2 separate regions of the Homo sapiens genome follow, and region 2 is linked to region 1. The links come from fine-mapping of genetic effects on gene expression. Tissue or cell type: whole blood. Region 1 holds a variant in brackets; the other region holds the start of a gene. All regions are shown on one strand. Distances are between the middles of the regions.

What was found. PIP is the estimated chance that this variant, and not a neighbour inherited with it, causes the effect.
Region 2: it holds the start of TGM3, and the variant in region 1 is fine-mapped to the expression of TGM3 in whole blood (TOPMed, PIP above 0.99).

Annotation. Positions count from the first base shown.
Region 1 is chr20:2,328,122-2,333,121 of GRCh38, forward strand. TGM3 (transglutaminase 3) reads left to right here. Exons shown (of 13, transcript NM_003245.4): 9 at 1-244; 10 at 3,881-4,189. Among named protein-coding and RNA genes, the nearest start is that of TGM3, 35 kb to the left of the region's middle. RefSeq lists an enhancer at 1,846-2,428. The variant G/C (reference allele first, on the strand shown) is at 2,179.
Region 2 is chr20:2,293,532-2,298,841 of GRCh38, forward strand. It overlaps TGM3 (transglutaminase 3), which reads left to right and starts at 2,470. Exons shown (of 13, transcript NM_003245.4): 1 at 2,470-2,539. The coding sequence starts at 2,533. LOC105372503 (a long non-coding RNA gene) reads right to left here. Exons shown (of 3, transcript XR_937203.3): 2 at 3,661-3,759; 3 at 2,290-2,963. RefSeq lists enhancers at 3,174-3,707, 3,708-4,240.

The DNA.
Region 1 (5,000 bases):
GTGTTCCAGTGCGGCCCCGCTTCGGTCATTGGTGTTCGAGAGGGTGATGTGCAGCTGAACTTCGACATGCCCTTTATCTTCGCGGAGGTTAATGCCGACCGCATCACCTGGCTGTACGACAACACCACTGGCAAACAGTGGAAGAATTCCGTGAACAGTCACACCATTGGCAGGTACATCAGCACCAAGGCGGTGGGCAGCAATGCTCGCATGGACGTCACGGACAAGTACAAGTACCCAGAAGGTAGGAGGGACGCTGGCGGGGCAGTGCCGCGAGAGGTTCTATTGTGGGAGGATGGCTCTGAGGCTGGAGAGGAGAAAAGTCCTCACCTCCCCCGCACTGGCAGCCAGTTCTGCCTGAATGATAGGATTGCTCCCTAGCACCTAACATCCACCTCCCAGGACTGTTTCCGGAGGGAACAAAACCATCACGGGCAGCTGTTGTGCCAGTGGAAGTTTGCTGCAGGGCACAGGTGGCTGTCAACCCAGCCCATCTCCAGCTGTGTCCCTGTCTCAACTACACAGCTAGGGTGACAGCACCGTGACTGAACATCACAGGGAGAGACATGGCCCCCATGAAAGGCCCCCAAGGGCTTTGGGAGAGATTTCTCCATCAGTCTGCTCCCTTAGCCTCTGAGAAACTCAGGGAGAAAACCATCTGAACGAAGAAAGGGACAAAGAAACCCAGAGACCTGAGCTTGCACTGTGCACATTTGGAGGTCTCCCAAGAAGCCAGATGAGGTGTGATTACATGGTGTGAATGCCTGAGCTCCTGAAATCTCAGGCATGCTACATTGCTCGTCCCCCTGAAGTCACCTTGGAAAGCCAGTTGCTGCGAGGCTGCCTCGACTCAATTATATTCACTGCCCAGAGTTTCTTTTGAAACCAGCAGCGCATCTCTTGGAGCATTCTCAATGATGATAAAAGTTCTGCATTTGAAGACAAAGTTCATTTTTAGAAACAGCCAAAAGTAATTTAGTGCTTGCTCTTGCAGGCCACAGTCACTCCTAAATGGGGTCAACATTTCACACTTTCTAAAATGCTTTGAAATTGCTCATTCCATTGATCTTCACAGTTGGTTCTGAGGGGTCAAGAAAAGCATCCTCATAAAGGTGCACACAGTACCCACAAAGTAAGCCCTGAATCTCTAAGTGACGGTTGGCTAATGGTGTTGGCCGAGTTTACAAAAAAGGAAAGCTGAGCGCAGGTGATGGGGTCTGACTTCAAGTCCAAGTGGGTGCCCCCCCAGGTGCTGGTATTTGTGAACATTTGGAGGCACAGTTTTAGGGTTATGAGATTGGTGGCCTCAATTTGGCCCCAGTCTTCCTCTGCAGGTCATTCCCAGGACTGAGCTCAGATAGACCTTTGCTCAGTCAATAAACATATTCTGAGCCCCATACTGAGTGCCTGCTTCATGCTGGGCCTTGGGGATGCAACAGAGGACACTGCAGATGGGCTGGAGGTGTGGGGATGTAGGACAAGTATTTTCAACAATGTTATGACGTAGAAACAAGCATAGGGGGTCAGGGAGCAAAAACTCGGGGGCGGAAGGTGAACTCTAGCCCTACCAGCCATAATTGTGTGACCTCGAGCAAGTTTCCTCTGATCTCTGAGCCCTCGCTTCCTCACCCGAAGAATGAGAAGAGCAATGCCTGTCTTCAGCGGGATTTAAATGAGCTAAGGTATACAAAGTGCCAAGTGCAATGCCTGGCATATAGTCAAGACTTGATAAATAGCAGTGGTGATCTTTATCAATTTGAACCTCTATAGCCTCACTGGAACAATGACTTCCCAAGGTGACTATTTTGCAGGCGCTGCTTACATGACTGTACGATCCTGTGGGGTTCCTTACCTTACCCCACACCTTGATCTCTGGCTGTCTCAGCCAAACTTCCTAAACAATGGAGAATGGGCAGGTCCGTTGTGGGGGTGGGGGAGGGGGTCCCTGAAGGACTCCCAGCAATGCCCCAGCCCTTATGCGACAGGACAGATCACCCTGCCTGATGTTGCCCAGATCTTCTTACCTAATGACTCTAGCTTCTCTCTGAGGGCCCCAGAGAGGAAAAGCTCATAAAATATGTTGCTAAGTATTGATGCAATAGCAACAGCAAAGGGAGAAAACAGCAGGAGGAAGCTTAGTCTTGAGTAAACCCAGCAGGTGACCTATATAGGCATCAA[G/C]GCTCCAAGCCTCATTGTGCAAACACACCTGCTTCAAGGTCCCAGGCACAGAAGGCTCAGATCCGTGCACTGCCTTCAGCTCTGGGTTGAACTTACAGCTGGACTAGAGGATGGGAAGGCATCAAAAGGAACCCAGCCCACCAGGAACTACCAGCTTAGGTAATCTGGCTGCCTGCCTTCTTTTTAGCAGGGTGTGTGGGAGGAAACTTAGACCAGGGGTCCAGACACCAGGGAACTGGCCCCCTCTCTGCCTCTGCAGATGACTGGCCCAGTCCATCTCAGAGTGGTCTGGACAAGTTGTGTCTCTTCTTAGGGCCTTAACTTGATAGGCATGGACGAGTTGGCCTCTGAAGTCTCTGCAAATCACATGTAATTTATGGGAAGGGGCTTGCTGTATCGTAAAATGCTTACAATAAGTCATCTGGGCCAGGTGAAGTGGCTCATGCCTGTAATCCCAGCACTTTGAGAGGCCAAGGTGAGCAGATCACCTGAGGTCAGGAGTTTGAGACCAGCCTGGCCAACATGGTGAAACCCTGTCTCTACCAAAAAGGCAAAAATTAGCTGGGCTTGGTGGCGGGCACCTGTAATCCCAGCTACTCGGGAGGCTGAAGCAGGAGAACCTCTTGAACCCAGGAGGTGGATGTTGCAGTGAGTTGAGATCATGCCACTGCACTCCAGCTTGGGTGACAGAGTGAGACCCTGTCACAAAAAAAAAAAAAAAAAAAAAAGAGAGAGAAAAAAAATAAAAAAAGAAAAGAAAGTCATCCAGTGCCTTAAGCATTTCACAGGTTGTTGGGGAAGGTGGGAGAATGTAAGTGTGGTCTGCAGACGTCAACATGGTCACTCTTCCTTGTGTACCTGTGTTCCTGGAAGGTCAACACCTTCTCCTAGATCTATCTTCAGGTCAAGCCTTTTGTGAACTGCTCAGTCAGCCCTGGCTCAGAGGCTTGCAGTCGGTTACTCAGCTCTGTGTGCCCTCAGAGCCATTTTCAGGTACATCCCTGTCATTCTCTGTGGGCTACTTACGCCATCACACTCAGCAGCACCCATAGCCTGAGTCAGAGTCAGAAAACCCATCTTTTTATCCAGTCTTTGCAGTTTTGAAAACTGAAATCTCTGGACAATTTCAACTAGTCATAACTTGGAACCACACCGACCATGGGAAGTCCTTGTCAACCGGCACAGATCAAAATGTCACTCCTTGACTCTCAAAGCACCTTTAGAAACAAGGCAGAAGAACATGGTTTACCAAAAAAAATTTTTTAATTAAGTCAGTTCTAAATCATCACCTTGCTTTTTGGCTTATGAATGTATTCTAATCTTTTTCAGCTCAGTTCTTATGATTTATTTTGAAATTATCTGTTTTTTAAGTCTCACAAAAGACATTTTATCAGAAAAAAATGGAATCTAACCTAATTAACGCAAGCAAATGATCAAGCCACATAGTAATTGTGTGCAGGTGTGATAAAGCTTTTCTACAGATTTTGGGAAATTTAGAGCTGATTAGAAAAGCGCCAGAGACCAACTGGTCTGTGAGTCTCCGGTTAAGACAGGCGAGCTGGAGACCTGTGAAAGTCGAATGCCTGCTAGGGCAGCAATGGAGCCAGCACCAGTCCTAGGCCGCCTGTCCAGGCAGGGTACTGTCCTTTGCCCAGGTTGCCATCACATCCCTGGCATGTTTCTGTCTTTTCCCACCACACAGGCTCTGACCAGGAAAGACAAGTGTTCCAAAAGGCTTTGGGGAAACTTAAACCCAACACGCCATTTGCCGCGACGTCTTCAATGGGTTTGGAAACAGAGGAACAGGAGCCCAGCATCATCGGGAAGCTGAAGGTCGCTGGCATGCTGGCAGTAGGCAAAGAAGTCAACCTGGTCCTACTGCTCAAAAACCTGAGCAGGGATACGAAGACAGTGACAGTGAACATGACAGCCTGGACCATCATCTACAACGGCACGCTTGTACATGAAGTGTGGAAGGACTCTGCCACAATGTCCCTGGACCCTGAGGAAGGTAACGCATCCCGCAGTTGGAGGAGATCCACGAATCCGAGGTAGCCAATGGCCTTCTGGGGCTGCAGGGTGTCTGCTGGGCTCCAGGTTAGTCAGCTACGAATGGAGCAGCCAGCGGCCCCTGTGGTTAAGCCATGTATTAATGCTTTGGAAGTTTCTGTCTCTATGAACAGAGTGATGCCAACCAAATGTCAGGGTGGTGCCAACCAAAATCCTTTTACGCCCCAAGGGAGGAAGGAGGGAGGCTTTGGCAGTTCATAGCTATGGCACAATATCCCTTACAAGTATATACCACCTCACACAGTTTGACCGTCTAAAAAAAGGCAGATTTTCAGTGTCCATCTTATAGAAGCAGAAAGTGAGGCTGGGAGAGATTTGTGACTTGCTTCGGAGATAAAGTATCATAGATAGTAGTGGTAGTGCTGAGTCTTGGTCCTAGGTTTCCTGATACTGAGTCCAGAGCCACCCCCTGTTTTCTATGTTGTATTGTTCTTACCCACCTCACCCCCACTCCCACAACAAATCGCTTTTCAAATTTGACCTCAGGAGGGTGGCAATGACCACGGGACCCTAAACCTTGGCCCATGGCCCTCCCACAGCTGCCACGGGGTGGGTGGACCTTCTGGAATCCTGACAACAGTGACAGGTTTTCTTAGAAGTCTGAGCGTTTGGGAGGAACAGTGACTCCTTGCCCTTGGGTAGCAGGGATGGGAAGGGAACAAGGTGGAGCAGATAAAGGTTGTGCTGTGGAAGGATTAGAATGCAGGTGTGCCCACATTGGTAAAATCCTTCAAGCTGTCATGAAAAGTTTG
Region 2 (5,310 bases), 34 kb before region 1:
GGATTATAGGCACGCACCATCATGCCTGGCTAATTTTTGTATTTTTAGTACAGACAGGGTTTTACCATGTTCCCCAGGCTGGTCTCAAACTCCTGACCTCAAGGTCCCACCTCGGCCTCCCAAAGTGCTGGGATTACAGAAGCGAGCCACCGCACCCGGCCAGGCTAATAATATAATATTATTAATACTAACTTTTTACACTGGGCTGTGCCCAGCGCCGTGCTGAACCTTTTACACTTGCTGTCTCCTTTGATTCTCAGAGCAATTCCACTCAGTTTTACAGTTGAGGAAACAAAGCCTACGAGAGGTGAGGAGACTTGGCAGAGCCAAGACTGTGTGTCTTCAGGTTCCCTTTTAAGGGGAGCACCACCTCCCTGTCACCTCTGCAGCTTTCCTTGTCAGGTCATTGAAAGGAGTGCCCGGGGTCTGATTTTCCTTGGCTCCCAGGCCAACAGCAACAACCACAATAATAAGCAAAACCCCTCCTTTCCTTTAGACCACACACAGAAGCATACAGAGCACTTTCACACCCATTCATCCCATGCCATTCATGGAGCTGTCCTCCAGCTTTCTGGCAGGATGAACTTGGCGTCATGAGGCCTCGCCCAGAGTCACAGCTAGTGCCCGTGGTAGGAGCCAAGACCACACATGAGTCTCCTCTTGGGTCCAGGCTCTTTCCATGTCCCTCTCTACCCTCTGCTCTTTTCTTAGTCATCTGCCAGAGCCAACAGTGCATCCCATTCTGCCTGGCATGGGTGCACAGCCAGCTGTCTTAGAGCCCCAGAGGCCTGGGAAAGGCTGCCTCATTTAGGCGCTGACCTCCAAGGTTAAGCAAACACAGGCTCTGGAGCCATTTACATATGGGTATGAATCTCGTGGTTGGAGACTCAGGTTAATCTCTCTGTCCCCCATAAGATGGAAATAATAATAGCCCCTTTGCATAGGGTTGCTATGAAGATGAGAAAAGCTAATATATGTAAAGTGTTTAGCCAGTGCCTGCCCACAGTAAACACTAAATCAATTAGTTATTATTAGTAAGCACTAAATCGGTAGTTATGATTCCCATCTTTACAGTGATATTGATTCACTTATTCAAGAATGTGCATGTTCCAGCCACGTGTCAAGCCCTGTGCTAGATTCTGAGAAGAAGATTTGAATGATATGCAACCTGTACCTTCAAGGAGCTCAGTCTGGAGATGGGGACATATATAAACAGATAGTTCCAGTGCAGTGGATACATACGGTAATAGAGGTTCTAAGATGTACAAAAGGCTGTAGGGGCCTAAAGGACGGAGAAAGGACACTGATTTCTCTTTTTCAATTTTCCAAGCCACCTGCCTATTCCGTCTTCTCTTTCTCGAGATCAAACATTCTCACTTCTCTCTAAAGACCCAACCTTGTCATCATGGTGCTCAATCTTCCTTCCACACTGTGATGCTGGGGAAAGCCTTGGGGCATTTCTGTTCTCTCGTGAATCCTTGAAGCCTCACTTTAAAAAATATATACTCACTCCTTTGTCCATCGTAAACCTTGATATTTGTAAATATCGATAATAGGAACTTTGAAAAAACATACGCCCTTAGAAACAAGCAAGCAAACAAAAACACGTAGAATGTCAGAGCTTCTCCCCACTCCACACCCTTTCTTTAAACTGATGTCAAGGTGGGCCCAGTGAGGGTCAGTGACGGAACCTGCAGTCTGAGAAAGACATGGCAGAAGCATAAGGTTAGAGGCTGTTCCTGCTGCCTCATTAAAAACAACAATTTTCCCCCAAATCTGGACTGAAACTGACATTCAACGCCAAGTGTGATCTCAGTTTAACCTGCCCTGGTAGATATGCATACACTTCCCATGCGCACCATCTCATGTGATCGTGTCCACAGCTTTGTGAGTTGAGAGGGGTGGGAGTGATTATCCCCAACCACAAGCAAGGCTTCCGGGCTTCAAGGGTTGGAGACCACCCAGGGCTCGGCCAGCATCAGAACCAACGGCTTCTAATTCCAAATCAAATGATGGTTTATGCCACACTACAACCCTAAACAAATGAACTGTGATGTGTCTCACTTCCCTGTGCAAGTGGAAGATGCTAATACATGTGTATCATGAGAAAGGACCTCACAATTTTCTTCTTCTGGGTTCTGCTGAGACGTTTCTTTGATTCAGAGAGAACTTCCCAGGATCAGCAAGAAAAGCATGTCATCATTTCCTAAACCCTACAATCCAGGAAATAGTCCATCATTTTATAAAATTATAAAAGCGAACTATTTGAGTTTCTTTATTATCTGCCCCCTTCTCCCCAAGCTGGTCTTGTACAAACATGATGCACGTCCATTGGGTGACAAGTCTGTCGTAAGTGAAACGTTTACAGGCACTACAGGAATGACCTGGTGCCTCGCCCACTTCATTAGAATTCTAATTGGGGTGTGTAGGAGAGGATTCTATAAATGGTAAGGCAATCCTTGGCAGCCTGTCTGTCAGCACTGTCCGTGCCATTCCCAGAGGAGCCTGAGAAGAGGCAGAGGAAGGCGAAACATGGCTGGTGAGTGCATGGCATCTTCTCCATCAGGTCCTTGCCAGAAGCCTGTGCTTCCCCTGGGCCAGCCTGCCAAGCCAGAGTGTCCGGCCAGGACAGCTGCCTGCCTTGGGGGCTCTGAAGGCCAGACTTCCTATTTTAGGGTGCTAGCCAGAGGCGGCTCTTTCTCAGTGGTGGTTGGGTCCCTCTAGCATATTCTTGGGGTAGAACATCATTGGAATGTAGCTCTGAATAATGGGCAGGGTGTTCAGTGCAGCTGGACATCGCATCTCCTTAGGCAGAGGACAAGCTTTGCCTTGTTTGTGTTTGCGTTTCTTTTACACATCCGTCGCCACCCGTAAAGCCAAAGCAGACAGGACTCGGGTCTCGTGTTTCTCAGTGTAGCTGTATCCAGCTGTCAGCAGTGTCAGCAAAGAAGCACATCTCAGAACTACCAGGGAGTGAGAGTGGTAACATGTAAGTTGATTTGAAAGAAACCATTGTTTATTTCAAATCAACTTACTTAGGAGCATTAGGAATGCTCCTAAGTAAGCTACACATCAGAAGCATCAGACAGGCTCTGTGTAAGTGACTTGATGAGCTGAAGCCTCCCCGTAGCAGGAGCAGGTGTGCCACAAGATGTCCTGGTCCACAGGAGAGCACCAGGGAACAGGGGTTACAAAGAACAACAGGAAGTGCAGGTTCCCCCACTCTATGCTTACTGTCGAGGATATGGGCCTTTGTTAATCAGCACCCCTGCTAAGCAGCATGCTAATTATTATCTGTCTTGTGTGCTCAGCCTAGTAGGTTGACAGGGACGCCAAATCCAAACAAGATATGAGTCAAACTTGTAAAATATTGTGAATGGCGATTAGGGCTGCTGGAAGATTGGCCAAAGACATCACTGAGCCAAATGCAACAGGCAAATGCTGGCTACTTCAGAAGCCACAAAAACTGGGACAGGTGATTGCACATTAGGCCCCCTCCCCTGTCTCCCATTCCTTGCTGTAATGTACAGCATGGCTGGGATGCTAAGAAGAGGAGCTCTGGACCCTACACACTGCAGCAAGAGGGGAGGTCAGATGTCATCTAGCCCATCTCCCTCCCTCCAGGAGGTGGCTGAGGCCCAGGAAGGGGTGGAACCTTACACACAGTGAATCCATCGCAGAGCCAGCTAGGTCTCAGCAGTGCCCTTTCCACCATGTCCTGCTGCCAGAGCTGAGCTCCTACATAAGTGCACATAACATCTGGAACATAAAAAAGCAATTCTGAACCTGGCTTCTCATTTGAGCTTTGTGACCAACTGCTTGTGTGTTCTCTGCCACCCCTGAGCCTCAAGTTTTCAAGATGAAAGCTTTGAAATGAATGCGTTTTGAGGTTCCTTCCAGTACCGACTTTTCTTTCTCCACAAAAAGAAACCAGAGCCAGGGAGTGGACAGGCACGTGCCCAGCCCCCAGGAATGTGCACCTCCCATCCCTGTGCAGGACCTCCCGTGGACTCTCAGGAATGGCCTGCCCGCTGTGAGGCATGATTAAATGTCTCTGTTAACAACCAGAGATGTTCTAAAGTCACAACAGAATGAGGCTGGTGGGGAGAAAATCAATTTTGAAAAGGTGGTGGAGAGACAGGCGAATACATTCAGTCCCTTAAATTTGTCCCACTTGCAGTTCCCAGCTCAGCTCCGAGTCACTCAGCCAGGAAGTTCCCAATCAGTGTTTCTTGGATGAATGAATTTATTCACTGAACACCTAAGGGAGAAGAGCTGTGCCAGGTGCAGTGGGAAATATGGAGGTGAATGAGATGTGGTTCTGTCCTCGGTAGCTTTTAGTCTGATATTTTTTGGTACCACCGGTTTTTTAGGTGAGCAGCATGCAAGGCAGACTGTTATTAAGCTGCATGACAAATACAAAACAAGTGCTACGGGGACCAACAAGAGAAGGAGATTAGTCTTGTCTGGAATTTGGGATAGGGAAGACTCTGAAAAATGGTCACAGACAATGAGTTGGACTTGGTCTGGAGAGGTTTTGCAGGGCAGAGGGAACAGGAAAATAAATGTCAGTGTGAGCAGGTGTGACCCAGGGGACTATCGGGATGACAGGTGTGCTGCTTTGAGAGGACTCTGTGTCCAGCTCCTAATTTAAGGTTCTTGTTGCAATCAGAAGGGGTTCCATTATTCCACCCCTTGGTGGAGAAGGCAGCCTGGGCTGTGGCTGGAAATGAAGGTAGTGGAGGAAGGCCTGGCAGTGATCCGCACCAAGTGGCCTGGCATCCCCAGAGTGGGTGGGAGAGCAGTTTGTGAGCACAGAGGAGGGCCCCAGTGTGGAGGGGAGGCAAGATTCCCCATCCCCAAAGCCACTTGGAAGCCCTGGGTTAGTGGCAGAGTTCTCAGGGTACACACCTGAACCACAGGCTTCTGCCTGCAAATGACCAGAACCTCTGTTTTGGGGACTAATGGCTCTGTCCCTCTGGGGCAGTGAGCTTTCTTGCCAACTACTTTTCCAGGCAGAGCACTGGCCTTGGCTTCAGGGACTTCCCATCTCAAGGCCTCATTTCCTCCACCCCCAAAGGACCTGTACCATTCCCAGCGTCTGGGTCTACCACCAAACCGTTCTCCTTGGAGCTGGGACACCAGTCGCCCCTCCTCCCATGGAAGCGGTCAGGAATTGCTCTTGGGTTCTGGCCTCCTTCTCTTCTGTAAATCTTCTAGGTGCTTCCTGGACCCTCCTCATATTTTTGTGTCTGGCACTGGGACCAAGGCAATATCTACTCTCTCTCTCTCTGAAAAGGAGATGGCCCC